Linked DNA regions of Homo sapiens. The protein of the gene in region 2 interacts with the protein of the main gene of each other region in a pairwise test. Each region holds a gene or a part of one and is shown on either strand. Other genes may lie near its edges.

Evidence for each region.
Region 1: the proteins of SAXO1 (region 2) and FAM124A interact in binary tests that used the Homo sapiens proteins (3 or more experiments, as listed by UniProt).
Region 3: the proteins of SAXO1 (region 2) and KLHL40 interact in binary tests that used the Homo sapiens proteins (3 or more experiments, as listed by UniProt).
Region 4: the proteins of SAXO1 (region 2) and PM20D2 interact in binary tests that used the Homo sapiens proteins (3 or more experiments, as listed by UniProt).

What each region holds. Positions count from the first base shown.
Region 1 is NC_000013.11:51,273,218-51,281,877, reverse strand, and holds part of FAM124A (protein FAM124A), read right to left. Parts: intron 1,429-8,660; coding exon 622-1,428; 3' UTR 1-621.
Region 2 is NC_000009.12:18,926,201-18,932,920, reverse strand, and holds the end of SAXO1 (stabilizer of axonemal microtubules 1), read left to right. Parts: intron 1-3,865; coding exon 3,866-4,869; 3' UTR 4,870-5,271; downstream 5,272-6,720. UniProt on the Homo sapiens protein: May play a role in the regulation of cilium length. Stabilizes microtubules at low temperature.
Region 3 is NC_000003.12:42,688,537-42,694,704, reverse strand, and holds the end of KLHL40 (kelch-like protein 40), read right to left. Parts: intron 6,096-6,168; coding exon 5,988-6,095; intron 5,837-5,987; coding exon 5,651-5,836; intron 3,847-5,650; coding exon 3,700-3,846; intron 2,824-3,699; coding exon 2,712-2,823; 3' UTR 2,161-2,711; downstream 1-2,160. Other genes in the region: HHATL (protein-cysteine N-palmitoyltransferase HHAT-like protein), read left to right, coding at 887-1,088, 1,487-1,628, 1,830-1,954. UniProt on the Homo sapiens protein: Substrate-specific adapter of a BCR (BTB-CUL3-RBX1) E3 ubiquitin ligase complex that acts as a key regulator of skeletal muscle development.
Region 4 is NC_000006.12:89,148,001-89,156,660, reverse strand, and holds part of PM20D2 (xaa-Arg dipeptidase), read right to left. Parts: intron 8,137-8,660; exon of another isoform or gene 7,397-8,136; coding exon 7,248-7,396; intron 4,876-7,247; exon of another isoform or gene 4,755-4,875; intron 3,619-4,754; coding exon 3,476-3,618; exon of another isoform or gene 3,472-3,475; intron 1,914-3,471; coding exon 1,759-1,913; intron 1-1,758. UniProt on the Homo sapiens protein: Catalyzes the peptide bond hydrolysis in dipeptides having basic amino acids lysine, ornithine or arginine at C-terminus. Postulated to function in a metabolite repair mechanism by eliminating alternate dipeptide by-products formed during carnosine synthesis.

The DNA.
Region 1 (8,660 bases), on a different chromosome or scaffold from region 2:
GTATAAATCCAGATTTGCAGGTGTTGCATGGCTTCAAGATGAGGAATTACCTGTAGTCTGATATACGTTTACTTCTCAAGCTGACTTTTTCCATTATAAGCAGTGCTTAAACATCCCTAGGGCCACTGTTCTCTGGTAATGTAAATATATATGGAGAATCCAGTAAGGTGTGCGTTACGTTATTATGCAGTAATCCCTCATACAAGTCACTTACTATCTCTCCCACATTCAACGTTTTGGCCTTAATTGATTTGCCTTCATACCATGGAAAAATTGCCAAATTGGTTCTGGCTGACTAGGTTTTCTTTTCATTTCAAATAATTATATAAGCCATTTAAATTGTATAAACCCACTAAACCATACCTCAAATGCTGAATATTCAAAAAATATATTTTATGACAAGTTTGTTGAGAATTTATTTGCATAAAAATGCCAGTATTTTTCTGCTGTGTCTCTAGAGATATACCACCCCCCAGCTAAGAGTGGGTGGTAGGCAAATGTGCTACGGGCTCCTGGGAAATGGATCATGAAGAATGTGGTGTGCTCAGTGGCCAGAGGGGCAGTGGGGCCTGAGTCTGTGTCTCTGAGTTTGTGTGTTTCGAGAACAAGAGCAGAGGGCATTCAGATGTAGAATTCCTCCATGTCGTTATCCCCGGGGCCAGCCGACCCTGGGGGTGGTGGCATGTCTCCATCAGTCTGCTTGACTTTGGGGGTATCGCATGGGAGCTGTGGGGAGGAGTCTGTGAGGGTGGAGGTGCTGGGAGCTGGGGGAGCAGCACGAGCTGTCGCTGAGGAGCTGGAAGACCTTTTGGTGAAGAAAGGGAGGGAAGCCCAGGAGGCCTCTGTGGTCACCCTGCTGACAGTGGGCAGTGGTCCCTCCCTGGAATCCTTGTGAGCTGCCCAGTGGCTGCTGCATCTTTCGGAGGGGAGGGGTGTCTCCACTGTGCTGCAGAACCTACTGGGTGCAGAATATGCAGAGACCACAGACAGGTCCGATGAGGACAGCCGCAGGCCTGTGTCCACGTCTGTCTCCTGGGCCCCCTCTAGGTCATCGATGGAGAGGAGGTGGCCATGCCTCCACTCTGATGCCCTGTGCCCTGGGGCACCTGTGTTTGAAAACCACTGTGGTTCAGCTGAGGAGGCCAGGGAGGGGCCTCCCGTGGGCAAACAAAACAAGGACTTGCTTCTCTGGAAAGACCAGGGAGGGTTGGGGGTGCTGTTGGCTCGTCCGGCAAATTCCTGCTGGTGCCCAGGAGGCAGGCCTGTCCGGATGGGCCCCGGGTGAGGACTGTTGAGCGGGGACTGCTGGCTGCTGCCAGGTGTATGGCTTGGTACAGCAGTGCTCGGCAAAGGAGTGGAATGACGTTTCTTCTCGGAGGCATGATGTACTCTGCCAGGTTTAGGAAACTTCTTATGCACCCTTTGTGCCTGTGGGGGGAGAGGCAGATCACATTAGTGCAGGATGGGAATTGTTAAATGCATCAGGAAACACAGTTACCAATCATTGGAAACTCCTGGCAATGTCATGGCAATAAAGCATTACCAGCATTACCAGTTCTGCAATCTCTAGAGCAAAGACAGAGGTAGCAGAGCTTTGAGGAGCACCAGAAAGAGTTTTCAGTCTGAGGAGCCATCTCCGAGGCTAGGAGGAGATTCAGCTCCTTATCACAATACAGAATACTTTTTAAAGCACACATGCCCATTGCGCTCAACAAACTGGCAAAAAGAACATGGGCCTGGCTGAGCAGGATAACGGAGATAAGAATTATCACAAAATGCAAAAAGAATGCTTGCAGGGTTTCTTTCCTTCCAACCAAAGAATCACAGTGTGCTCACCTGATAGACACTGTTTGTAAATGTTACTGATGAGAGGACAGAAGTGATCAGGATGGGCTATGCAGAGACAATTTCAGACCAGATCCACATGGGGTGTGATTCTAGTATATGCATGATAGCCAGGACACAGTCTTAGGGTGGGGTGGTCCATGGTTCCAGACAGTAAATCCTCCATGAGTGAGGGGCTATCGGGGTTAGCATTTATCTACTTGTTGCTAGTAACTACTGATTCCTCTATATACGTTACCTTTCAGGAACTGTGTACAGGAAAGGGAGCTGCCGCCTGCTGACTGATCCTGCGGATCCTGCAGGGGTTGGATGAGCAGCTTTGCCCTGTCATATCCCAGCCTATCCTCCTGGTCCAGCAGCCCTCCCTGGCCCTCACTGCAGCTCACCAGTAACCCGTTTCTGTTGTGCAGAACTGGAGACCTCTCTTCCAATGCGCATTTGCACCAGGGTCTGCTTCTCTCAGATTCTCTCTCTGGTCTGTGTCCAAGCATACAGGCCAGAACCCAAGGCCAACCTTACTATGCATCCAAGGTTTCAATTAAATAATGGGTTTGGGGGCAGTCGGTCTGGCTTGACTTAGTATATATTAATAGTACCTGATTTACAAATCCCTGCAATAAGAAAAGGGTTCTGACTGGGGTTTACTACAAGGGCTCTCGGCATCCAGCAGGAATGGAGAGTCACCCCTTTGGGATGGGGTAAGGAGCAGCCCCAAAAGGCTCAGATGTGCCTAAGAGGTGTCACAGCTGGGTGGCTGCTGGGGAAACAAACCAATTTTCTTAATCATTTGAATTGGCTGAATAAAAGAGAAAATAAGTCAAGAGAAAATAAAATGAGGCTATTAGAGAAAGAAGTCCTTGGGTACAGAGGTTGTTTCCGGGGGAGGGGGACAATGTTTATTAATTCAAATGTCTATCTTATTTTTTCCAAAGGCCAATTCCTTTGGGTGCCCTAATGTCATTTTCTTTCTTGATAAGTATGCATCACCTTGTAACTTCTGTCTTCAAAGTCTTATTTGAGAACATGCACTTGGTGAAAAATTTTGCAGTCCGAATCTGCCTGAAAAAGGAAGCCTTTGTGGTTGCTTTATGAGGAGCAGAAGGTCAAGGTTCCCATGCAAGGAATGCCAGGGGACGTCTAAATGTTCCCAGTGTCAGGGAATAGGGCACTGTTCAATTTGGCTTAAAATCAAGCACAACTGATGGAGGATGAACACTGTGTAGTTTTGCAGAGATTTTCACGACTGTGCTTGTTTAACAGAAATCTACCTGTATTCTCTTATTTTTACCACATGACGAAGGTAGGAATCCAGACAAACCCTACATTCTGCTGCTTTGAAGAGAGATGGTACCCGGTCTTTTTCACTGGAGGGTGCCCACGTGCACAGTGGAGCTGCCTGCTGGGTGGGCGGAATTTGAGGCTGATATGGCATTGTGAATAATGGCAGGAAATCCTGGGTGGCAGCAGGAGGCAGGTGCTTGAGGAGCCTCCACATCGCTCCTGAGGCCTGGAGCTGATGTGACTGCAGGGCTTGCATATGGGCGGATCTGGTGGTATTCTCTGGCTCTGTCCAGTGGCAGAGGGGTCAGTTTCTAAAAGTGGGGTCTTGTTGGATTTAAAGACAACCCGCACCTGTGAAGGTTGGAGCTCCTTTATGTGCTGTTCCCCTGGTGGTGGTTCCATCTCTGGCCTCCCTTGTGTGCTTGTCTGCTGACCAGAAACACTAGAGGCTGGGAGGGAGTTACTTTAGATGTTTCCAGAGACTCCTCCTCAGTGGACCTTTTTAGAGTGAAACAGGAACCTGAATCCTCCTCGCATGGAAGCCTCCCCCTGGCTTTCAGCTCTTGGAGGCTGCCCTCCTGAGCTGCTCCAAGTGACAGCAGCGATGTACTCGTTCCTTTCTTTCTCTTTGAAGCAGTGCAGGCTAGCTGCCTCCCTGGAATCCAGAAGCTCCCTTCTTTCTATTTAAGGAACTTTATCTAAGGAACAGAATAGCATCACATAAATTAATGTGCTTAAGGCAACCAGCCCGGGAAATTTGGCTATGTCCCTAAAGTCACCAAAAAATTGGAATTCAGTAACTGATCCAAAAGTTTTCCCTGCACCTTTGAGTACAGTTTGCAACTGGGGAAGCGAAGGGGTCTGCGGCGGACCACTGAGGCAAAGCATCTTTTTCAAGGATCTGGGTGTCAAGAGGCTCATACCCTGGCACATGGATAGAATCCTTTCTCTCTTTTTTTGAGACAGAGTCTCGCTCTGTCGCCAGGATGGAGTGCAGTGGCGCGATCTCAGCCCACTGCATCCTCTGCCTGCTGGGTTCAAGTGATTCTTCTGCCTCAGCCTCCTGAGTAGCTGGGACCACAGGCACGTGCCACCACACCCGGCTAATTTTTTGTATTTTTAGTAGAGACAAGGTTTCACCATGTTAGCCAGGATGGTCTCAATCTTCTGACCTCGTGGTCCACCCGCCTCGGCCTCCCAAAGTGCTGGGATTACAGGCGTGAGCCACCATGCCCGGCCAATTCTTTCTCTTTAATTTTTTACTTTTTATAGATTTAGGGAGTACAAGTGCAGATTTCTTATGTGCAGATACTGCATAGTGATGAGGTCTGGGCTTTTAGTGTACCCATCACCCAAATAGTGAACAGCGCACCCAATAGGTAATTTTCAGCCCTCACCCCTGGTCACCCTCCCACCCTCCCACCCTGTGGAGGCTCCAGTGTCTCTTATTCCACTCTGCATGTCCATGTGTACCCATTGTTTAGGTCTCACTTCTAAATGAGAACATGTGGTATTTGACTTTCTGTTTCTGAGTTATTTCATTTAAGATAATGACCTCCAATTCTAACCATGTGGCTGTAAAAGATGTGATTTCATTCCTTTTTATAGTTAAGGAGTATTCCATGCTATATATACCGCATTTTTTTTTCCAGTCATCCACTTGATGGACACTTAGGTTGATTCCATATCTTTGCTACTGTGGACAGTGCTGTGATAAACATACGAGTGCAGCTATCTTTTTGGTAAGAATCTTTTCTTCTTAAATCGCTAGTAAAGGTGATTCTGCCCCTCCCCCAGGAGCCCTGGCAGAGTCTCATGATTTGTTCATGGTCAGGGACTTTACCCTCAGCCTCACACCTCCTCTTTCCCAGTAAGATCATTTCCTCTTGTGTTTTCCTTGGCAGAAACATGAGCAGTGTGACAATGTCTGCTGTGTAATGAGCCCGTGATGGCCATTTTAACACAGGGACTAATACAAATTTGGGGCTGTCTCAAGAAAATTGGGCAACGGGTTCACATTGAGAAATCAGAGTCTTGCTCTAAAGAAAAATACCATGTTTTGCTTTTCCTTTCCCTTTCCTTTGGGTGGTTTTCACACACTCACTAAGGATGCTGGCCATGGGCAAAGCCTGTGTTGTCTTTCTGGAATGGTCAGTACAGGAAGAGGATTTGGATGGAAAGGGCAAAGTTCACCCTAAGAATGGACAAAGCCCGTACACGTTTTGTAAAATCAGTGATGTTTTTGGTAGAAAGTTTGAAAGTTGTCAAAGAGATGCTGAGCTAGACAGGATGGCGGTTGAGCAAATGCTTGCTGGATTGTCATCTGTCTACCTTCTCTTCCTGTCGCTATTATGGAAGTGTAAGGCTTTCTGGAAAATCATCAGTTATAGCAACATACCAATTCCATTCTCTGCATAGAATGGCAGGTAGTATAATTCAGGGTAAAAGTACTTATTCCCCCAAATTGGTAAAATGGCAGCAAAGTGATAATTAGCACCCCCTGTGGCTTCCTGCCAAGAGTTACTTAGCCTCCCTAGCTTCACCCCGCATACCTCTTGAGTGATCTCTCTGAAAGTCAAACCTGAACAAGCTCCTTGGCAAAACTCACTCCTTGGCAAGCTCTACAAGACCCGGCCTACCCCTTGAGCCTTGTGTCTTTCTAGAATCCTAACTCATGTGCGCCAGCAGTTTACAACTACCATGCTCCCAAACACCTCATGCTCGTTTGTATCTCCATGACTTTACATGGTGCTCCCAGTGTCTGTGCACTTAGAGAATACCTGCCATCTTCGGAGACAAAATTCAAGGTGCTGCTGTGAAGCCTCATTTGGCCACTTCCCCTCATTTGGTGAACAACATGCACTCATTTCTCTTGGGTATATTCCCAGGAGTGGAAATGCTGGGCCACAGCATGAGCATGTTTGCGGCTTTAGTAGATACTGTCAGTTTCCAAATTGGTTGCGTCGATACATAATTCTACCAGGAATTTATAAGTATTCCAGTTGCTCCACGTCCTCACCAGCATTTGGCATTGTAATTCTTTTTAATTTTAGCCATTCTGGTGGGTAATGGCATTTCATCATGTTGTTAATTTGCATTTCCCTGATGAGTGATGATATTGAGCATCTTATGAGATGTTTATGGGCTATTTAGGCATTGCTTTTAGAGACATGCCTGCTTTTTATGCATACTCTGGATTTAACACCTTTCTTAGATATATGCATTGCAAAAAATATCATCAGCCAGTTTGTGGCTTACCTTTTTGTTCTCTTATTGGTATCTTTTGATGAACAGAAGTTCTTTTTAAAGTCATTTATCTTTTTTTCTTTAAGGCTGGTACTTACTGTACTCTGGTTTATTTCTTTATTTCTTTAGAGACAGGGCCTCCTTCTGTTACCCAGGCTGGCGTGCAGTGGCACGATTATAGCTTATTGCAGCCTCAAACTCCTGGGCTCATGTGATCCTCCTGCTGCAGCTGCCTGAGTAGCTAGAGCTAAAGGCATGTGATACTATGCTCAGCCAATTTTTTTTTTTTTTTTTTTGTATATACAGGGTCTGGCTATGTTTCCCAGACTGGTCTTGAATTCCTGGCCTCAGGTGATCCTCCTGCCTTGGCCTCCCAAAGCACTGGGATTTCAGGCATGAGCCATCATGCCTGGCCCCTTGCTCTATTTTAAAAACTTTTTGCTACTGCATCCAGTAGCCATTGTGAACCAGGATTCCTGAGTACTGTGGATGACCACAGGGAGGACAGAAAATAAGCCACTCTTGATTAAGCCACGATTCTTTAGGTCCCTATCATTCTCAGTTGTACTTGAGCTTACAAATTACTCCAACAAATAGGAGATATTGATATATTTAGAGGAACTGGGTTAATTGTTAAATCTTCACTTAGTTCTGTGAGGCTTTTAGAAATTGGGTTGCTTGACATCTGATCCTGCAATTATGTGTTTAAACAAATGTTCAGTTTTGTACATAGCAAGCACTCAATATATTCCTGAATGAATAAATACAAAAATACATGTGAGATACAAATACATATCTTCTAAAATAACTTAAGGTAATTTTAAGGTACTTATATGTGTGTAAGTTATGATATATGCCTATATATCATAAATCATAAATACCAATAAATATTATTTGATTTTAACAGAAAAAAGTTATGAGGACTCTGATATTTTTGGGAAAAGCAGTAGCAACATCTAATGATAAAGAGCAACTTTTCAAATAAAAAAATATCTGAGTAGTTGCCTCAGGGACCAGCTTTGTTTAATACAGGTTGAGTATTCCTAATCCCAAATCTGAAATCCAAAATGCTTCAAAATCTGAAACCTTTTGAGTGCTGACATGATGCTCAAAGGAATGCTCACTGAAGCATTTTGGATTGTGGATTTCCAATGCTCAAGTGATAAGTATAATGCAAATATTCCAAAATCCAAAAAAATCTGAAATCTTAATCACTTCTGATCCCAAGCATTTCAGAGAAGGGATAGTCAACCTGTATCAGTAGTGACTCTTGTGAAAATGTGGCAAGGATCCTAGGAGATACTATTAATAAACAGAAAAGGGCTGGGCACCTAGAAGTTCTAGGAAACAACATGGATATTGATCTGATGTATATTAAAAAGCTATTCACTTAAGGAGGAACAACAGAGAAAATCAAAGTGACAGCTGAGGACCCGGAGCTAGCGCCAACAAATCTAATGATAGAATCTGTAAAACTTGAAAGAATATCATGCCCAGGTGCAAGCTTTCTCTTTGTATAAGTTCTGCATCTTTCCCCGAATATTTATTTTTGGTGTAATTTGTGAATTACCCTGCCCATTGGCTGTAAAACACAGGAGTAGACAGAACTGATTTTTATATTAACAAAGGATCATCAGAGTTTCATTAAGTATCATTGATTTTAAGAAATTTCCAAAGAGAAATATCCCGTGACATAGTTCAATGACCAGGAGGAGCTGACAGAAACAATTAACAATAACTTAGGTTAAAAATCTCATTCTTACTTTATTTGAACAACAAGAGATAGAGTATTTTGTTTTTGAATTATCCAGATAATTTCTTCAATTCTCCAATGTAATTTTCTATTGCACTGAGGGTATAATGCTAGCTTGTGGGACTGAACTTTAGCTAATTACTGCATTCTAGCCTGAAGGATTCAAGTTAAAAAAAAATTAAGCCAACGCAATGTTACACGCCTGTAGTCCCAGCTACTCAGGAGGCTGAGGTGGAAGGATCGCTTAAGCTCAGGAGTTTGAGACCGGCCTGGGCAACATAGCAAGCCCCTGTCTCATTAAAAGAAAAAGTACATGCATGCATATCTATCTGCGAGCCTGACTGGAATCTTGGAGATTCAGTTTAATCTCAGTTTTCTCTAGCTCAGCACAATTGACATTTTCGGCTAGATAGCTCCTTGTTGGGAGAGCTGTCCTGTGAGGATGTTTAACCGCATCCCTGACCTCTATCCACTAGATACCAATAGCACCCTGGCTACCTCCCCGTTGTGACAACCAAAAATGCCTCAGGACATT
Region 2 (6,720 bases):
AAAAATTACCAGAACTAATACATGAGTTCAGCGAGATGTCAGTACTGAACAATATATAAAAATCAGTTGTTTCTGTATTCTAGCATGGACAATCAAAATGGAGTCAAGAAAACTGTTCTCTTTTTAATAGCCTCAAAATTAATAAAATCTTGGAATAAAATTTTAAAAAAGCAAGTGTAAGTCTTGCATGCTGAAAGCTACCAACGATTGCTGGGAGAAATTAAAATCTGAACAAAAATGATGGACATTCTGTGTTCATGGATTGGAAGGTTCAATACTATTAAGGTAAAGTTGTCCCAAATTGATCTGTAGATTCAATGCAATTCCTATCAAAATCTCAGAAGGCTCCTTTTCCTTTTTAGAACTTGGCAAAGTAATTTTAGGTTTTATATATGAAATCCAAATAAACCAGAATAGCTGAAAGTATTTTTGAAAAATAAGAACTAAGTTGTAAAACTTACACTTCCTGATTACAAAACTTTATTATAAAGCTACAGCAATTGAGACAGTTATACTGACACAAAGACAAGTATAATGACCAATGCAACTAAGTTGAGAGTACAGAAATAAGCCTTTATGTCTATTGTCGTTAACTTCTCACAAAGATGCCTAGGCACTTCAGTGTGGGAGAGGATAGTCTTTTTGATGAATGGTGCTGGGACAGTTGGATATCCACATGCAAAAAGACGAAGTTACCGCATCCAAACTCAAAAGAGTCAGAAACCTAAATGTAATAGCTAAAACTATAAATGTTTCAAAATAAAACATGGGAGAAAAATCTATGATATCTTGGGACAGGCAAAGAATTTAGACATGGCATCAAAAGCATGATTTATTAAAGATATAAATAGGACTTTATCGCAATTCAAAACCTTTGGGCACTTAGAAAGACACCATTAAGAAATGAAAAGAGTCAGGTGTCAGGTGGGTGTTTTGTTAAAATAATAAGAAAATGAAAAGAGAAGTGATAGACTTGGAAAAAAATTTGTAAATCACATACCTGGTGTAAGATTTGTATTTAGAACATGCAAAGAATTCTATAACTCAATAAGAAGACAATCTAATTTTAAAATGGGCAAAACATCTCAATATTTTACCAATGAAAGCACATGAAGAGCGGATAAGTGCATGCAGAGATACTCAACATCATTAGTCATTAGAGAAATGTAAATGACACTGCAAGATACTACTAAATACCCATTGGAATGTCTATAATAATTTAAAAACACAGATGATAACAAATATTGACAAGGATGTGGAGAAATGAGAATGTTTATACGTTGCTGGTGGGATGTAAAATGGCACATCTACTTCTCCACTTTGAGAACATTTGGCAGTATCTTTTTTAAAAAGCTAAAGATAGATTTTTCTATACAACCTAGCAATTTCACTTTATTATCTACCCAAGAGAAATGAAAATATATGTTCACACACAGACTTCTTCACAAAGGCTCATAGCAGAATTTCTTTATAATAGCCAAGGAGTAGAAACAACTCAAAATGTCCATCAATTGGTGAATGATAAACAAAATTTGGTATCATATAATATTATTCAACAATAAAAAGGTGAACTACTGATACAGGCTACATTATGGATGAACCTCAATTACATTACACTAAGTGAAAGAAGCCAGATGCAAAACGCTACATATTGGGTGATTCTATTTATATGAAATGTCCAAAAAATGCGCAGTTATAGAGACCAAGAGCAAATTAATGGTTGCCTGGGGCTGGAGATGGGAGTAAAGACTGACTACAAATGAAGATAATTGGTATTTTTGGCATGATGCAAATACTCTATAACTTGATTTTGGTGATGGATATACAACTCCATAAAAGTCACTAAATTGTGTACTTCAGATGGTACCTTTTATTATGCAAATTAGATTTCAATAAAACTGTTACAAATTGTGCCTGCGGACTCCACTAGTGTTGGTGTGTATACCCAAGGCTCCTGGGAAGCAGCTTTTTTTTCTAACCTTTCGTACAGCAGTAAGCAAGAGAATTCCCTATAGATTCAGAGGGCTCACTAGGGCTAATTTAAATCTGGTAATTTATGGGCCTGATGGGGCAACCTAGGTCTTGGATGTTAGTCAAGTATTTTGAAAGAATGCCAGCAGTAGGCCGGGCGTGGTGGCTCACGCCTGTGATCCCAGCACTTTGGGAGGCCGAGGTGGGCGGATTACCTGAGGTCGGGAGTTCGAGACCAGCCTGACCAACACGGAGAAACACCGTCTCTACTAAAAATACAAAATTAGCCGGGTGCGGTGGCACATGCCTGTAATCCCAGCTACTAGGGAGGCTGAGGCAGGAGAATCGCTTGAACCTGGGAGGTGGAGGTTGCGGTGAGCTGAGATTGTGCCATTGCACTCCAGCCTGGGCAACAAGAGTGAAACTCCATCTCAAATAAAAAAAAAAAAGTTCCAGCAGTGCCAAGGCAGTTGAATCACATGGTTTGTCATCCCATTTTTCTCACCTAGACTTTCAGTCTTGGTGTGCTGGCCCTGATGGTCTGTGTGGCAAAGCCAGTTTCAAAGGCTTACAGTGCTGCCTGAAGACAGTATCTGGTCCTCAAGATGCATGGAGGCCATCTCTACTGCAGATTTCCTTGGGGTCCAGGCCTCCCATTATGTTGGCCATTCCAGCCCCACAGCAGAGGTTCCTCTGGAGATGGACATCTAGATTGGCCAGTTCTTCTCATTCTTCAAACATTCTGAAGTTCTTTTCCTCCTGAAAATCTTCCCTCTGATTATTTTTTTCTTTAACCTTTACTCCATCTGGAAATAAAATGCCCCTAAGTGTGATATGAGGTATCAGAAGAACATGGCTTTGGAGACAACAATACGGTTTAAATTCCAACTCACCTCACTAGCCATGTGACTTTTGGGCAAGTTTCTTAGCTCCTCTGAGCCTTGTATTTAGAAATCTGTAGAATGGAGAGAATCATACCCATCACAAAGGGTTATTGTGAAGATGAAACAAGATCATGTATGGAAAGACTTGAGCACAATTGACCGACATGTAGTTGGTATTCCCTAACTGTTAGAACCAGAGAGTAGAGTGGGTCAGATCGTGGGCTCTGGGTCTGAATTTGCATTTGTGCTTTTCCACTTCTAGCCAAGTGAGCTGGGACAAATTCCCTCATTTTCTGTATATCTGTTTCTGCATCTATAAAACTGGCATTAATAGTACCCACCTTATTAGGACAGTCTGAAGATTAAGTGAGTTAATATATACAGCACTTAGAATACTGCCTGTTATGTAATAAGTTTTATATAAGTGGCAGCCACTGTTCTCTCACCACCCAATACAATGCCCTATTCCCTTGGAGCAGCATATTTGATTTATGTGGATTACATGTGAGGATTACAGGGACACAGTGGGCTGTCACTCCACAGACGACCAGGTAGGCCTGGTTCATCTGGCTGGTGGCCCACCAGTGGTGGGTTGTGAATTTTCTATCTCACTACATCACATGCATCTTCTCACTCCTTCCATGCTGATTCAGAGAAAGTACCTTCTCCACAGAAGAAAGGAAGTGTTGTCAGAGTAAGCTAGTGGTTGAACTTTTCTGCAGGAATGGATTCCCTGGATCCTCTCACGACCATGGACCCTCTAAGATCCCTGCATGCAGTATTGTGGGGTGTGATGAGAGCTCCTGTAGATTTGTCTCTTCTGCCTGCAAGTACCATAAAGTTGACACATCAGGTGTTTGAATGAAGTGGTAGCAGGGATGTGCTCTGTTCTTTCTTTGTCTCAAAGAACACTTCATCGGAGACTGCCTTAAGACCTTGGGGCTCTGTAGAATATATGCAAGTTGGTTGACTTGATTTATTATTAATTACCTCTTCTGCTTTAATTTCAGCTGATTATTTGCCTTGGAACCAACCAAGGCGAGAGCCACTTCGTCTGGAACACAAATACCAGCCGGCATCAGTCAGGTTTGATAACAGAACCACACACCAGGACGATTACCCCATAAAAGGCCTTGTGAAGACCATAAGCTGTAAACCTCTGGCCATGCCAAAGCTCTGTAACATCCCCTTGGAGGATGTGACTAACTACAAGATGAGCTATGTGGCCCACCCCGTGGAGAAGCGCTTTGTGCATGAAGCAGAGAAGTTCAGGCCCTGTGAAATCCCCTTTGAAAGCCTTACCACTCAAAAACAATCCTACCGGGGCCTGATGGGGGAGCCTGCCAAGAGCTTGAAACCTCTAGCCAGGCCTCCTGGGCTAGACATGCCTTTCTGTAACACCACTGAGTTTCGAGATAAGTACCAAGCTTGGCCAATGCCCCGGATGTTCTCCAAAGCTCCCATCACCTACGTCCCTCCCGAAGACAGGATGGATCTTCTGACAACAGTGCAGGCCCATTACACATGCCCTAAGGGTGCCCCAGCTCAGTCCTGCCGACCTGCACTTCAGATTAAGAAGTGCGGTCGCTTTGAAGGCTCTTCCACCACCAAGGATGACTACAAGCAGTGGTCCAGCATGCGCACAGAGCCAGTCAAGCCCGTTCCCCAGCTGGACTTGCCCACCGAGCCCCTGGACTGCCTGACCACCACTCGGGCCCACTATGTGCCCCACCTGCCTATCAATACCAAAAGCTGTAAGCCTCATTGGTCTGGCCCTCGAGGAAATGTCCCTGTGGAAAGCCAGACCACCTACACCATCAGCTTTACTCCCAAGGAAATGGGCAGGTGCCTAGCTTCATATCCTGAGCCTCCTGGCTACACCTTTGAGGAAGTGGATGCTTTGGGTCACAGGATATACAAACCAGTTTCCCAGGCAGGCTCTCAGCAGAGCAGCCATCTTTCTGTAGATGATTCAGAAAACCCCAACCAGAGGGAGTTGGAAGTGTTAGCCTGATTTTGAAAAATAGTAATTTAGAAATTACACAGTACTTTTAAAAGCAGACAACTGAGAATTATTTGTTGGACAAAAAAGAATTCCCTAAAATGACAAAAAACAAAAAACAAAAAACCTTCACCACTTCCAGAGCACTTGAATAAAATGAGAATCACTTGACTCAGGGAAAATGACATTTAATCACCGGCTAATTAACTCCCCTTACCTTCTCCTTTACTGCATCCCCACCCCGTTTCAGGTCCTTTACTTTGTGCTTATGGAATCAAAGTTGGTCTGTGAGGGTTTCTCTGATCCAGATGTATTTTATTAATTTAATCATTGTATGAACTGACATAATGATTAACCCTTGCCAAGTATGAAGCGCCAAAGAATAAATTTTATTTTGGGGGGAATGAATCTGTAGGCTGGCTATGCAGAGAGTAGTCCGTATTGCTTGGGACCTTTGGGAGATTTTATACTAGCACCCCCATTGTGTATCAGTATTGGTGGAGGTGCCTTGGGCCTGGTCTGGAGTCTTGTTTTGGGTTCTCTCTGTGCAGGGCTGCTTCACAAAGCATCCTTCTACCTCTTCACTGCATGACATACCAGCAAGAATAGTGCTGTTCGATGGGGTGTGGATCTCTTTAGTCACAGGTGATGGAGGGAAAGAAAGAGGGAGGCAGTGATGCATGAACCTACCAGACCTCTCCCCAACCCCAAGCTGGTACAGGCTATGATTCCAGGGAGAGGAGGGAGAAAAAGCACCCTTGGCAACCAGGCAGTCGACGCCTGGTCCTTGAGCTGTGAGCAAAAGCTGTGGGCTCTTCTAAATGCTCAGAGCCTGGAAGAAATTTCCCCAGGCTGGCCTGGTTTCTGGAGAGCCTGGATGTGCTTGTCCTAAAATGACAGCTGTGACCAGACCTGTGACAAAGTTTAACATAGTGGTGAGCCACATTCCGCCCTGGAGTTTCTCTCCTGAGCCTAAGGTTTTTACCACGTTTGTTTCTAAGGCCAAGTAATTTAAAGTTATCTTATTTATATTTTTTTAACTGAGCAAAATTGAGGAGGGACTTTGTTAAAGAGGGTCCGATACAGCCAATTAACTTGCAGATTTTTTTTTTTAACTGGGCAGAATTGAGGAAAGACTTTGTGCCAGTTAGGTGAGCTCATGGGTCTGGGTGAGCCTCACAGAGGGACGTAGACTTAAGTCTGGGACACTTGCCTCTCTCGAGTTCACAGAATCCTGAAATGTACTCCATGGTCTCAGGGAACTTGGGAGTAGCATGGAGAAGGTGGGGGGAGTTCAGCTCATGTCTAAAGCCTTGGGCTTGGGCTCAGGGCCTGGTGGAGGGACCAGGGGCCTGTTCCTTTCTATCTAGGGCTCTGTCTTTCCATGGCTCTCACCCACCTGACCCAGGCTTCGCAGGTCCCCACACCTTGCATCCTCACCATGAGCTTTGTTTTCATTGTTGGGTTGGGATCTATGTTATTTAATCCTCTCATTGGTTTGTATGGGGTCTGAGTGCCTGCCCTTAGGGGTAGAAAGGCTCAGAGTGGTTAAGCACCTTTCCCAAGGCCATACAGCACGGAGCAGCAGAGCCAAGGTCAGAATCCAGGTTTTCTGACCCATGGCTCTTCCACAACACCAGGCGCCTCCCATCTTCTGTGTCTCAGATCTCCTGGCTCCACAAACCACATCAAACCACCTTCTGTCTGAGCCTACTGGAGTTCATTAAGCTAAAGGATTACACTAAGAAGGGTAGGTTTTATTATTACTACTTTTTTTTTTTTAACAAATCAAAAAAATATTGGCACTTCATTTGAAAAGCCAAATAGTGCTAAAATGCTTGTAAAAATACAGCAATCTCTTAT
Region 3 (6,168 bases), on a different chromosome or scaffold from region 2:
TGAGACACAAACCAACTGTGTGGGTGTAAAGGTAAGAAAGGCCAGTGAGGCCAGCATGATGAACTGGGGGAGCATGGTGGCTGATTTGGTCAGGAAGGGAACAGAAACCAGACCACTTGGGATCTTCTAGCCAGAGTAAAGAGACTGAGTTTATTCCTATTGTAATGGGGAGCTATTCAGAGAGGTTAATCATGGAAGTGATGTGACCTGAGCTACACTCTTAAAAGATGCCTCTGGCTGCTGTGTGGAGAATGAACCATGGGGGCAAAAGCAGAAACAAGAAGACCACTTAAGAGGCTCTTGCAATAATTTATGTGAGAAGAGTGATCATCTTGACTAGGGTGGTGGTGGTAGAGGAGGTGAGTGGTGGTCAGGACTGAGAGGAGCCAACAGAATTTGCTGGCTTGCTTGGATGTGGGTGATGAGGCAAACTGAGAATCCAAGATGGCACCAAGGCTTATACCCTGAGCAACTGAATGGATGGTGGTGCCATTCACTGAGATGAGGACGGAGCTGGGTTTGAGCAGGGATAGGGGAATCTGTCAATCAAGTGACATGGCTAGTAGCAATTGCATATACAAATCAGGAGAGACTGGGCTAAAGACACAGATTTAGGGGTCATCGTCATAGAGCTAGTACTTGAAATCTTGGGTCTGGATGAGATCATTTGGGAAGTAAACGAACAGAGATAGAGAAGCTATAATGTCCCAGGCTGAGCCTGCCACAATTTGAAGTTGGTTGGAGGAGGAGCTGCTACGTGAGGTCAGGAATGTTGAATGCACCCAGGGTGACAGTGTTGAGGAGGACGCCCTGTTGTGTGTCCTCTCCCATCTCATCCCTGCCCTTTCCCACACTCCCAGTGGCCCTTCTCCCATCTTTCCTGCAGATATGTGTATAACCACATTGGTGGGGAGCATTCCGCTGTGATCCCAGAGCTGGCAGCCACAGTGGCCACATTTGCCATCACCACACTGTGGCTTGGGCCTTGTGACATTGTCTACCTGTGGTCATTCCTTAACTGCTTTGGCCTCAACTTTGAGCTCTGGATGCAAAAACTGGCAGAGTGGGGGCCCCTAGCACGAATTGAGGTGAGCAGGGAAGACCTGGGGCTGGGACTGGCTGGGTCATAGAGGGCGGGGGGGCACTGCTGCTTTCTGGAGTTGTCCAAACACCTGGCCCCTAATCCAGAACTTTCTCACCACCACCCTCTTAGTTGTCAGAGCAATGGCTCACTCTGTAGGAATCTGCCCCTCCCTCCCTTCTATGAGGAATGGAGCACCTGGGCCTTGCCATGTTGGTCAGGCCTTGTCCTCTCTCTGGACCTGTTTCCCCATGTTTAACAAGGAGGGAGAGCTGACCTGGGGCTCTCCGAGACCCAGACATAGCCCCAAGACCTGACTGGCCAGGTGGGTAAGGCTGCTGACCCACCATGTCCTCTTTCCTTTGGCCTCTTGTCCCGCTGCCCATGCTTTCCTGGACCGGATAGGCCTCTCTGTCAGTGCAGATGTCCCGTAGGGTCCGGGCCCTGTTTGGAGCCATGAACTTCTGGGCCATCATCATGTACAACCTTGTGAGCCTGAACAGCCTCAAATTCACAGAGCTGGTTGCCCGGCGCCTGCTACTCACAGGTGAGGGACAGGGGTGTGGGGATACAGAAGGTGCCAGGCATCAGCCTCAAGGACCGTGACCTTCCAAAATGCCTCCTATCTCCCTCATCACCCCTGGGACTCAGAAGGGAGGGCCCATCAAGCGGGGAGAGGGGTGGGAAGACAAAAGTCGCTGAGGATGCAGTGCTGCTCCTGAGCATCTATGACTCCCTCCCCACACAGGGTTCCCCCAGACCACGCTGTCCATCCTGTTTGTCACCTACTGTGGCGTCCAGCTGGTAAAGGAGCGTGAGCGAACCTTGGCACTGGAGGAGGAGCAGAAGCAGGACAAAGAGAAGCCGGAGTAGGAGGGAGCGGGTAGAGGGATGGGCTCTGCTCAGCTATTCTTGGGCCAGATGGGGCCTGACCGATAGAATAAAAGACTTTTCTACAACAGCTTGGCTGTTCCCTGACCCTTCTTCCCACAGTCCCCTGGCTCCACGTCCATAGTGGCTGAGGAGCTGGAGGCTCTAGGCCTCAGGCAGGGGAGGGTTCCCACCCATAGGGTGGAGGGGACACCAGATGGAGAGCAGAGACCATCGACCTTGGCAGCCCAACAGCAGAACACTGAAGCCCCAAGTCTTCAACACACCTGCTCACTGACTCTTGGAGCACTGATGCAGACCCTGAGCTGCTTGCTCAGAAGGCACTTTATTCTTCCTAAAGAAGGAGACATATCTGCACTGTACACTGCACTTGATGGGGATGCTCCCATCGGACAGACGAGAAGGCTGAGTCCTGTGGGGAACTTTGCCAGCACACTCAGCTAGGCTGGGGCAGGGCCAGCACACGGCCTGGGATACCGCCCTGTGGTTCTGGTTCATGGATCAAGACAACCTAGGGGGATATGGCAACACTGGAGAAGCCTCTAGTTTCTCACCCTTGCCCAAAAGTCCAGGACTAAGCAGCACTTCCCTTTCCTTGGCTGACGCAGCCCCTGAGGCACCATAACTGGATCCAGGTAGACTCTGGCCTCTCCTAGCCTCTTTTCTGGAGCCCCCACAAGGCCAGGCCAGTGAGGGTCGCAGGATGGGAGGGGTGCTTAGTTCAGTCTGCCTGAGCTGGTCACATCTTAGTCAGGCACAGCACATTGAGCCGCACTGGTAGGAAGGTGGCACCTGCTGCATAGGCGATCTCCCGCAGGACACCCTCCCATTTCTTCTCCTCCTCGTTATACCTGGGGATGAGAGAGAGTGGGGACAAGGATGGAGAGCTTGGTCAGCTGAGTCCAGAGTGGAACGCAGCAGAGAGGGGTGGCTGAGGGCACTTGGCCCATCTCTAGGGAGATCTGCTCCTGAAAATCCCCAGGCTCTGGGAAAGGAGACCCCCCACAAGACCCACCCCAAGGAACACCCACCCCACACTCCAGGAAGGGTCTTTCTCCCCAGGAAAGATCACCTCTCAAGGGGTGTTCCCATATTCCTCAAAGTTCCCCTCCAGGAAGGTCTACACTGCCCACACCACCCCATCAATGTCCTCTCCTTGAGAATTTCCATGCTCCATTTCTACTAAGTCTCACGTCTCAGCCTCCGGCAGCACTGCTCCCCAGGGGCTGCCTGCAGCAGTGCAGATGGCTGCAGGTTCAGGAAGGAGATGCCCCAGAGGCTAAAGTTTCCTTCTCCCACCCCCACAAAGGACCAGCCATAGAGAGCAATGGTTCTGAAAGGCCAGGGCTCCAACTGTTTCCCAGCCCTAGTGGCAGCCCTCCCTCCAGACCAAGCACCCGGAAGGCAGGAGAGAAGAAAATCCGGCTGCTATTTGGGCCCTGTTTCTGTGAGTCTATGACCTAAGCTTGGGTCTGCTCCCATCTGCAACACTGTTGCTGCTCCACAGTGGGGCATGGTGTCATCTGTGCAAGCCCAGACTTTCCCAACAAACTGGTGAGAAACGGCCAAGCAGGGTATGTTGGCTATTCCTCCCTACAGGACTCCCTAGAAGAGGGATCCGCTTTGCCCCCAGAGGAGCTTGCCCAGTGCCTTGGTACCCCACCATGGTGCTATGGGGTGTCAGCCTTGCTCATGATGCCCCCTTGCCTCCCCAGGGTGGGACTCACCTCCAGATGTCATTGAGCTCTGTGGGAACCAGCTCTCCAGACTCCGTCTCCAGTGTGGCAAAGCCACCAATGGCATAGAGGGTACCCACCAGGCTGACCAGGCTGAGTGAGCTACGCTCCTGTGGGAAGGCCTCGAAGGGTGCCCACCTGGGGGTGTGTGAGAAGGTGCATCATTGGGATGCCTCGGCAAGCCCAGTGACTGTCCCTGCCACCCAGCACCCACAGCTCCAACTGCAACCCTTTGCAATCCAAGTCCCAGGCACCCATGCCCCCAACCCCATTCCCCTTCCCTGTCCCTCTGGTCTTCCCTTCCTTCCCCATTCTCTTGCTCCTCCACTTTCCTTTCCTTGTCCTCTTGCCATTCTATCCAACCTGTCCAGCAAAGTCCACCATGGATCTCCCCACTGCCCCTACTCCTCTCCTGAACTAACTCCACCCTCCAACTCACAACCCCAGCCCCTAGCAGGCCCCCAGCCTTGCCCTGGACGCAGTCCTTTTGCCCCTCAGCGGCCCCTGCAGCCCCACCCACCTTGCACACCTGCTCTATCCTTCTTCTCCCTTCACAGCCCAGTTGTTCTCAATGTATCTTCGCTACCCTGGCTCCTGCCTTGGGCCTTAGTCCCATCCTCCAAAACTGACCTTCCTGAGGTCCACAGTCACTGCACACGCACTGAGGTCCTACAGCACACAGCCCTGCTGACGTGACTTTCCTCACCCATCTCTTCGGCCTCACCTTCGTGGCCTCCTTCCTGGATAATGCAGCTGCCTCCACCATCAGGGCTTGGACCTCAGCTCCTCCCATTTACACTCTCTCTCCTGAGGGAGCTTGGCCCCTCCGTGTGCTACTGACCCCCAGATCTCTCCCTCCAGCTCAGCCCTCTCTCTCCCGGGTGGGGTCCTTTTGGACACCCCCAGGTACTTCAAGTCCACATGTCCTAACTGGACCCTCACTTTCCCTACCCAATCCCAATGATTATCCAGTAAATGGCCTCCCACCCTCACTCAGAAGCATGTACTTCTCCCCCTCTCACCCCCACATCCAATCAATAGCTAAGCCCTGTTTCTCCCACCTCCTAGACTCTTGCTACTCAAAGTGTGGTTCATGGCCCAGCAGCGTCAGCATCTCCTGGGGGTGCGTTAGAAATGCAGACTTACAGGCTTTCAGCCCTCCGCATACCGAGAATCAGAATCTGCACTTTAAGGCGATCCCCAGGAGATTTGCATGCCCATCACAGTGTAAGAAGCCCTGGCCTGTCTTTGTCCGGTGCATCCCCTCAACCCCATCTCCGCTGTGCCCCCAGCTCCAGGCCTTTATCACCCCTGACCTTCCTGACCCCTGGGAAATCCCTAATCTGCTCTCTATATCAGTTGCCATGAAGTACTTTAGTAGAACACAGATGAGATACAGTCCCTCTCCTGCTGGCCCCCGCTCCAGCCCCAGCACCGCCATCCCAACTCCATCACCCACCCACCTCCACCCAGCTGGAGCAACACCTTCCCTCCTATAGGCCTTGAGTTTTTTCTCCAAACTGCCTCAGCACCACCTTTCCTTAGTCTGGGGCAACCTCCTCCCACCACCCTCACCCCTTTTGCGAGCTGAGTCCAACTGTCTCTCAGTTCAGTTTTCTCTTTTCTGATGTCCCAGGCAGGGCAGCTTCTGTCTTGTTCACTGCTATATCCCTTGCACCAGGCCATTGCCTGGTATGAGTCCCTGAATGAGGAACCTGGCATCCCCTCCCCCAGCCCTGGGAGCCCCCTCCTGCAGACCAGGCTGGCCATAACCCTTGCCCCGCCTCCCCACCTCACTGCTGATCAGGAGAGAAAGCCTATTTCTATACTGATGTCCAAAGTCAACACTGGAGACCCAAGACAGGGACTGCAGCTCCTGCTGGGGCTGACAGAAGCCCAAAGCCATGCAGTTGTCCTTGGCGGAAGGGACAAGCTTTCATACTTGTTGTCTGTGATGCTGTACACTTCGGCAGAACTGGTCAGCCCTGTGTCGGTGACCCCAGCTGCCACGATAATGCGGCCATCATGGACAGTGGCCCCAAAGAGTGAGCGGGCGGTCTGCATGGGTGCCAGCTCCTTCCACTCAAACTTCTTGGGGTCATAGACGCACATCTTGTTCAGGCACTTCCTGTGGGGTGGAGGGTGGGGATGGGTGGAGAGAAGCAGGAGCCCAGCCACGCCTCCCTGCAATCACCTGCCGGGGCAGCCAGGACAAACCCCTGACAGCCTCTGGGAGATTCTACCTCTGCTCCACAGACTCACTCCAGGCCCAGCCTCACCTGTCACTGCCTTTGCCGCCAATTACGTAGACAAGGTCCATGTGGGAGAGCACTGTGTGGCCATACACCACGTAAGGCAGCGGGTCCGATTCACCCCATTTGAATGACCTGGAGGAGACGGGAGTGGGGGTGGGGGAGGGCACCCATCCAGGCTCGGCTCAGTCCCTGTCTCTGCACCCAT
Region 4 (8,660 bases), on a different chromosome or scaffold from region 2:
TTAACAGCCCCAGACCACTCTTTCCCACCTCTGATCCTCACGACACATTCCACACTACTCTCAGGACACGTAACATATGCTTTCTGAGAATTACTGCTACTGTGAGATACTGCTACTACGTGAATCAATCATACATCTCTAGACTAATAAGAACAGAAAAAAATAAGGCAATATAAATGAAGGCTGGGCTCTAAACCCTTCAGAAACATTATCTCATTTAATTCTCACAAGAATCCTAAGATAAATTGTTATTATCTCCATTTTTCAAGCAAGAAAATGGAGAGCCAAAGACACTAAACATTTCTAAAGGTTACAGAATTAGCTAGGCTGAGAGTTATGGGTCAAGATCTTGTCTCTCCAACTAGACTACAGGCTCCCTCTAGGGCAAGATTCTTATCTTGTATAATTCTAAAACTCACTCCACTTTACACAGTACATGATTTTAAATACTAACTTTATAGTTCAAATCAACAAAACCAGTCAGTGTGGTGGCTCACACCTGTAATTCCAGCACTTTGGGAGGCTGAGGTGGGTGGATCACAAGGTCAGGAGTTCGAGACCAGCCTGGCCAACATGATGAAACCTCGTCTCTACTAAAGATACAAAAAAATAGCTGGGTGTGGAGGCAGGCGCCTGTAATCCCAGCTACTCAGGAGGCTGAGGCAGGAGAATTGTTTGAACCTGGGAGGCAGAGGTTGCAGTGAGCTGAGATTGCGCCATTGCACTCCAGCCTGGGTGACAGGGCAAGACTCCGCCTCAAAAAAAAAAAAGAAAAAAAAAAATTAGCCAGGTGTGGTGGCAAGCGCCTGTAGTCCCAGCTACTTGGAAGGCTGAGGCATAAGAATCGCTTGAACCCAGGAGGCAGAGGAGGTTGCGTTGAGCCAAAATTGCACCACTGCGCTCCAGCCTGGGCAATAGAGCAAGACTTTGTCTCAAAAACAAACAAACAAACAGAAACAAATCAATAAAACCTCTTAACTAACTTCTGTGTCTATTTTATCTTCCATTCCAGCAAGCCATAGTATTTATATCACTACTATACACACCCTAACTTCAGAAATGGCTTTCGCTGGCTGGGCGAGGTGGTTCATGCCTATAATCCCAGCACTTTAGAAGGCCGAGGTGGGTGGATCACTTGAGCTCAGGAGTTTGAGACCAGCCTGGGCAACATGGTGAGACCCTGTCTCCAGAAAAACATACAAAAAATTAGCCACGTGTGGTGGTGCGTGCCTGTAGTCCCAGCTACTCAGCTGGCTGAGGTGGGAGGCAGAGGTGAGAGGATTGCTTCAGCCTGGAAGGCGGAGGTTGTAGTGAGCCAAGATCGTGCCGCTGCAACTCCAGCCTGGGCAATAGAGCAACACCCTGTCCCCCCACCAAAAAAAAAAAAAAAAAAAAAAAAAAAGCTTTTGCTGATTTTGCCATAAACTTTCCTTTATAGAAACTACATATAGCAATTCTAAAAGTATAACTGCCGACAAGGAAGAATATAACTTGTAAAAAGGCAGGGATTCTAGCATAGAAGTATCAGAATTATTCTAATTACTATATAAGTAAGATGACCTGTCATCTTCCCTATTGCAAGCACTGAGGAATGAAACGTGTAAAAATTAAAGACTTTCACATTAACTATTCAGCCAATTCATTTTGCATATTCAACATGTCACCAAATAAGAGAGTCAAGTTAGATTTCAATCTAACAGTGCTAGCCCACATATATACCTCTGATTGTAACTTAGATTAACTTTTAAAAGTTCTTACTGTGCACCCTGAAGCCAAAGCTGCAGCTCTGAAGCAATCTTCTGCCTTTTTGGTCAAAACTTGAAGTTCTTTCATTGAGGGTGCACGGAAGTAATAGATTAATTCAGAATAAGAGGGAATGATATTGGGTTTTACACCACCATTTTTTATTATACCTATAAAAAGAACCAAATTACTAGAATTAAGCTTGGTGACCATTTCTTTAAGCTTAAATACACCCATTAAGTTTTTCAGCCAATATGTTCATAAAGAAAAATAATTTAAACTCACTAGCTCCACCAATACACCAATCAAAGATTTTGTTATGTTGTACAACTGAAATTTCTTTACATAGGGTGATATTTTTTGGCTGATAAGAAAAAATAATTATCCATATGCACTTCATTCAGAAGAATTTACATAATGTTAAGAAATTATGATCCAGACTATAATGAAACTTAGAAATTATATAACCACAAAAAAAATTAGTAACATCTTAAGCTTTCTGGAAAAGATTTTACCATACCTCAACAATGGTATGAGGTTCTATAATTACCCTCATACCTCAGGAATCCCATGAGCATTTTAAATGGCATTTAGCTATAGGAAAAATAATTTTCATGCCAAGAAAAAAACCAATGCAGGTCAAAGATCACTAAGTATTATCAACTGTCAAAACAAATGTATTTATTTGGAATTATAAAGAATTAAGATTTATTCATTCGAAGTAATAACTAAAATAGATACAAAAAATCCAATGTCCTATGACCTACTTTAAAAAAATATTTCTACACATTCCTGTTTGTTCCTTTTAAAGAAACTAAAGCAGGAAAACTGGTAAAAGTACAATTACAAATTGACCTCAGGCTATAGCAAAATCAGGTAAAGAATAGATATTAAAATATAACAATTTCCTAAATCATAAGGAAATAAATTAAACAAATGTGTGCCTTCAAGACAGTACTTTGACTGTATTTATATTATGGTGATATATATATATAATTTTAAAAGACACTATTCAGGACCAGGCATGGTGGCTCACACCTGTAATCCCAGCACTTTGGGAGGCTGAGGTGGGCAGATCACTTAAGGCCAGGAGTTTGAGACCAGCCTGGCCAACATAGCAAGACCCCGTCTCTGCAAAAAATACAAATATTAGCTGGGTTTGGTGGTGTCTGCCTGCCTGTAATCCCAGCTATTTGGGAGGCTGAAGCAGGAGCATCACTTGAACCCAGGAAGCAGAAGTTGCAGTGAGCCGAGATTGCACCACTGCACTCCAGCCTGGGCAATAGAGCAAGACTGTCTCAAAAACAAAAAATCACACAAAAAGATATTACTCAGGACTAACAGCACTTAAATAAAACTAGCAGTTATTATACCTTTTTTTAATTGACAAAATTTGGTTATCATTAAGAAATAATGAGGACAACTGGAAAATCAAGATCCAATTTTCAAACACCCACCGAAAGAACACAGCCCCTTACATAAAACCTTTATCTTTGATACTCAAAGATGACATTCCATTTATGTACAATAATCAAAACTGTCTTTCTAACCCTATATAGACAAACATCTTAGTATCCTGTCACATGAATTTCTGAAAATATGCTTAAAAATCAGAATATTCATATGAAGTACAAAAATATTTCCAAATTTTTAAAAATTGAATATTAAATAATTATACTGCACTGAACTATAGCAAGCACCATCTATTATAGAAGGTATTTGACATTCATACCATGAACTCTCCAGGTTGGTTTCATTTGCTGTCTGAACACAGACAGATTGTTATAGGCCAGCACAGCAGCATCTAATGCATTTAATCCTTCCCAGGGATAAGAAGCAGAATGAGATGCTTTTCCATAGTATTTCACAGTCACACTAGGAAATAAAAAATCATTTGAAATTACTTTTGTTATTATTGCTAAAGTAAGAAAATCCAGGTAGTCAGAATTACCCAACTACTATTCAAAATTAATTCACATTGCTGGACTTTTGATTTGCAAATTATTTGTAGTAATAACACTGCAATTTATTTATGTTAGTTATAGTTTATTATTAGGTAACATAGTGCTTGACACAAAGAAAGCATTCCCAAAAAAGAGAGAAAAAGAGAAAAGATTAAATGTATACACAATCTAATGCAAACATGCAATATGGTATCAGGTGCTGAAATTACAAAAAAAAAAAATGGATCCTGTATGTTTTTACACAGCATTGTGATGATTCTATTATCAAAAGTCTGTAAAAAATCAGAAATTCTGTCTTAAGAGGTGGAAGGTCAGGAAAGCCAGAAAGGAGTTACTATTTGAAGTGGGTTAAGACAACCTCTGAAAATCAGATTATATTCAATGTTATCACAAGATACCCTAGTATTAAAGCAGTTGTTCCTGACCAATATCCAATATTTTATTATGTTCCAAAATGCCTACATCACTAATATTTTACATTTTAATAAACTGTTAAGTTCTCACACCAGTCTAACTGCTCTAATACAATTAAAAAAAAAAAGATTAGAGAAAGGATTGCGTGTTGAATAGTTACTTATAAAGCTCTGTGATTGACGTGCTTTGATAACACTTTTTAAGCCTGATTAATAATACCCACATTTAGGTGATTAGAAAACCAATCTGGACTTATTTTAATGGGTTAGATTCAGGAGTCCTTAGAATGCTTATGATATTTCTTCTCAACTGATTCCAGACATTCTATTAGCAGGACAAAAATCAAGTAAAAACATCAAACACGTATTAGATTTCAGGATACTGTATTGTTATTTCCTTGATATATATCTTATCACCATGACCTTGAAATGAATTTTTTTTTTTTTGGTACTCATCTCCCTCTGTCACCCTGGCTGGAGTGCAGTGGCGTGATCACAGCTCACTGCAGTCACCACCTCCCAAGTTCAAGCAATCCTCCTCTGCCTCAGCTTCCCACAGATGAATAGCTGAGACCACAGGAGTGCTCCATGCCCAGTTAATTTTTTATTTTTTTTTGTAGAGACAGGTTCTCACCATGTTGCCCAGGCTGGTCATGAACTCCTGGGCTCAAGAGACTCTCCTGCCTTGACGTCCCTAAGTGCTGTGATTACAGGTGTGAGCCACCTGGCCTGGCAAAACCGGAATTTCATCACAACTGGTGATAAATATTATAAAAACGAGAAGGATTATATGGAATTATTTTCAAGACATACTATTTAATTTTAAAAAGCCAGAACAATATATTGAGTGGAATACTTGAGGAAAACCTTCTTTCACAATTTATACAGGATTCTATTTATGTCCCATAAGTACACCAAAAACACTCTGAAAAGGATACATACCTCTAGAAAAAGGACTGGATTTGGGAAAGGTGGTCAGCAGGATTGCTTTATCTTATTCATTAGAAATTTGTGGTTGGGCCTGGCGGCTCATGCCTGTAATTCCAGCCCTTTGGGAGGCCAAGGCGGGTGGATCACTTGAGGTCAGGAGTTCAAGACCAGCCTGGCCAACATGGTGACCCTGTCTCTACTAAAAATACAAAAATTAGCTGGGTGTGGTGGTGCTTGCCTGTAATTCCAGGTCCATGGGAGGCTGAGGCAGGAGAATCCCTTGAACCCAGAGGCGGAAGCTGCAGTGAGCTGAGATTGCGCCACTGTACTCTAGCCTGGGTGACAAAACGAGACTCTCTCGGAAAAAAAAAAAAAAGAATTTTTAAGAAAAGTGGATTAGTAATTTAAAAAAAAATGAATTCTTGATCTTGTTCTCTTTTTTTTTTTCTTTTTTTTTGAGATGGAGTTTCACTTGTCTGGTGGCCAGGCTGGAGTGCAATGGCACGATCTTGGCTCACTGCAACCTCCGCCTCCCAGGTTCATGCAATTCTCCTGGCTCAGCCTCCCAAGTAGCTGGGATTACAGGTGCCCACCATGCCTGGCTAATTTTTGTATTTTTAGTAGAGATGGGGTTTTGCCAAGTTGGCCAGGCTGGTCTCGAACTCCTAACCTCAGGTGATCCACCTGCCTTGGCCTCCCAAAGTGCTGGGATTACAGGTGTGAGCCACTGCACCTGACCTCTCTTTTCTATCTTAAAAGATGACCAATGAAGGCCAGGTGTGATGGCTCATGCCTGTAACCCCAGCACTTTGGGAGGCCGAGGTGGGTGAATCACTTGAGGTTAGGAGTTCAAGACCAGCCTGACCAATACGGTGAAACCCTGTCTCTACTAAAAATATGAAAATTAGCTGGGCGTGGTGGCGCACGCCTGTAATCCCAGCTACTCAGGAGGCTGAGGAAGGAGAATCACTTGAACCTGGGATGCGGAGGTTGCAGTGAGCCAAGATCGTGCCACTGCACTCCAGTCTGAGCAATTGAGTGAGACTCAGCCTCAAAAAAAAAAAAAAAAAAAAAAAAAAGAGATGATCAGTGAGAAAGCTAAGAAGGCAGATACTAGGAGAAGGTCTGGGGTCAAGTGCGCTGACTTCAGAACCAAGACCACGAAGCCTAACCTTAAGTCCCAGAAGGGTAATGAGCTGCAGAGCCTGCCTGCATATGCAGGCCCCTTCTAGTCAAAGGCAAGGGCAGAGATTTCTAATCCCCAGTGTTTTCTAGAGATGGACTAGTTTACCACCACCCTTGAAACCAAAGTTCAAAGATTCCTCCTACTGCCACAGTACCAATTTCCAGTGATAAGAAGGAAGATACCCTAATAGTTAAAATGATCACCCTTTGAAAACAGGGCCTGGTAAGGTGCTAAGAGGTGGGATACCCGGGTACAATCTAGAAGCACTGCTGTGATGGTTCTGCTATCATTCCCTCAGTACCGAGCTACTTCTGAGGAAAACACATGGTTTTGCTGAAGCAGCTGAGCACTGGCTCCTTGTGCCTGGACCATTAACTACTATAGTTACTACTATGGTTGAAATTTCTGGTATAAAAAATCCAAACCACTTCAATGATGTGTGCTCCTAGGTACTAAAAAGTGAGTTCTTCAACATAAAGAAAGACAAATAAAAGGTTTCAGCACCAGACAAATCGGAAAAGCACAGAATGAGAAGTTCCACAAAAACCATAGCTACTCATGTTCCATATTCTCTCTCAGGACATAATTTATCCTCTTTGCAAAGAACTCAAATTAAAGTAAATAAAATGGATAAGTGTGGTTTCTTCCCATAGCTAATAGAACGATCTCTCGCAAATCTATTCAGTTGCAAAGACAATTTCATATGAAAGGACAGATGTTTTCCAGACACCAGATTATTGACAGTTCAAAAGAGAACTTAATTGTCAACATGTTTGTTATTCCTATGGTTTCTAAGTGCTACTATTTTAATACTCCAATTATGAACACCATAATGAATCTCAATTAGAAGAGGCTTGCCAAATGTCACTCCATAGATCAAGACATCTTGTTATTGTCTTTCAATTTACTTCTTAAATATACAAATGTGGAGTTTTCGTCTCTGGTTTAGACATAAAAGTATTCTATAGCCTGTGTTCCCCTAAGAAGTTTATCTTCAACTTGATTACTCACTCATGTTCAGCCATATCTGGTAGATAAGCAGCATTCTCTTGTGATGGGTGGGCCATAAAAACAACATCAAGATTTGTAAAAGCCCCTGCTTCAATTAAATCAATTTTGCCACCACCATCTTCTTCTGCAGGGGTTCCCAGGACAACTACCTAGAAGGAAATACTCATGTCAGGGAAAAACAACAAAATCCTCATAGGAATATATCAAACAGGTTCACCTGCATATGTATTCACAATCTACATTAAAGTCCTTAACCTATTAAGACAGGTTTTGTTCTATGACGCTTACGCAATGGGCATCAACAAATGGTGCTAAATTAATCACAAAATGTACATTGTTATACCAACTTGGTGCAAAGTATGTACTAAAGACACTATAAAAAGCTTTTCCCAATTTTACAAGTCAACTAATGGCAAAGATAAAAAAAAATACTACAAGTTTAGTCCCTCAAAATTTGTTAGGATTTGTTTCAAAAAGGTTCCTCTCGACTAAGCCTTTCAGTGTATGTATGTATATAATTATTCTTAAGTACTTTACGAGTCAGAAACTTTCTGTTAACTTACTACTTATCCTCACAACAACCCTGTGAGGTAGGTGGGTGATCTCTATCATCATTTTACAGGGGGTGTTTTTGAGGAATTGAGTGAAGTGTCTTGCCCCAGGTCACAGAGCAAGTCTTCAGGCAGAATTAGGATTAGATGTCCTGATCTTCTGGCCTAAACTCTGATTCCTTACTGGGCTACCTATTTTAAAAGTCTGAACTCATTAATCCTTTATGAAGAACATTAAACAAGTCTTAATGCCACAGTTAGAAACAGCCAACTATTACACAAACTTACTAATTCGATTCCACCAGTTCAACCAGGCAGATTTATTGGTCACCAAACACCTAATTAAACAAAAGAGAACTTTACAGAATAAACATTTTACTTTGATATTTAAGCTTAACTGCTTCAAACAATTTTAAAAATCAAAATAAACAACTAATATATTTTCAAGATCATGTATAAGAACACAATGAAACAAGCTGGAAAAGTCTTGGCTTGCAAAGGAAATCAACTTAAATTCCATTTTCAGATAATTAATAACTTAACCTTGCTAAAATTGAGAACAACCATTTGAAGTTAGAAGAGTGGGCCGGGAGCGGTGACTCATGCCTGTAATCCTAGCACTGTGGGAGGCCGAGGTGGGCGAATCACCCGAGATCCGGAGTTCGATACCAGCCAGGCCAACATGGCGAAATCCTGTCTCTACTAAAAAATGCAAAAATTAGCTGGGCGTGGTGGCACACACCTGTAATCCCAGCTCAGGAGGCTGAAGCACGAGGATCGCCTGAACCCGGGAGGCGGAGGTTGTAGTGAGCCGAGATAGGACCACTGCACTCGGCCTGGGCGACAGAATGAGACTGTCTCA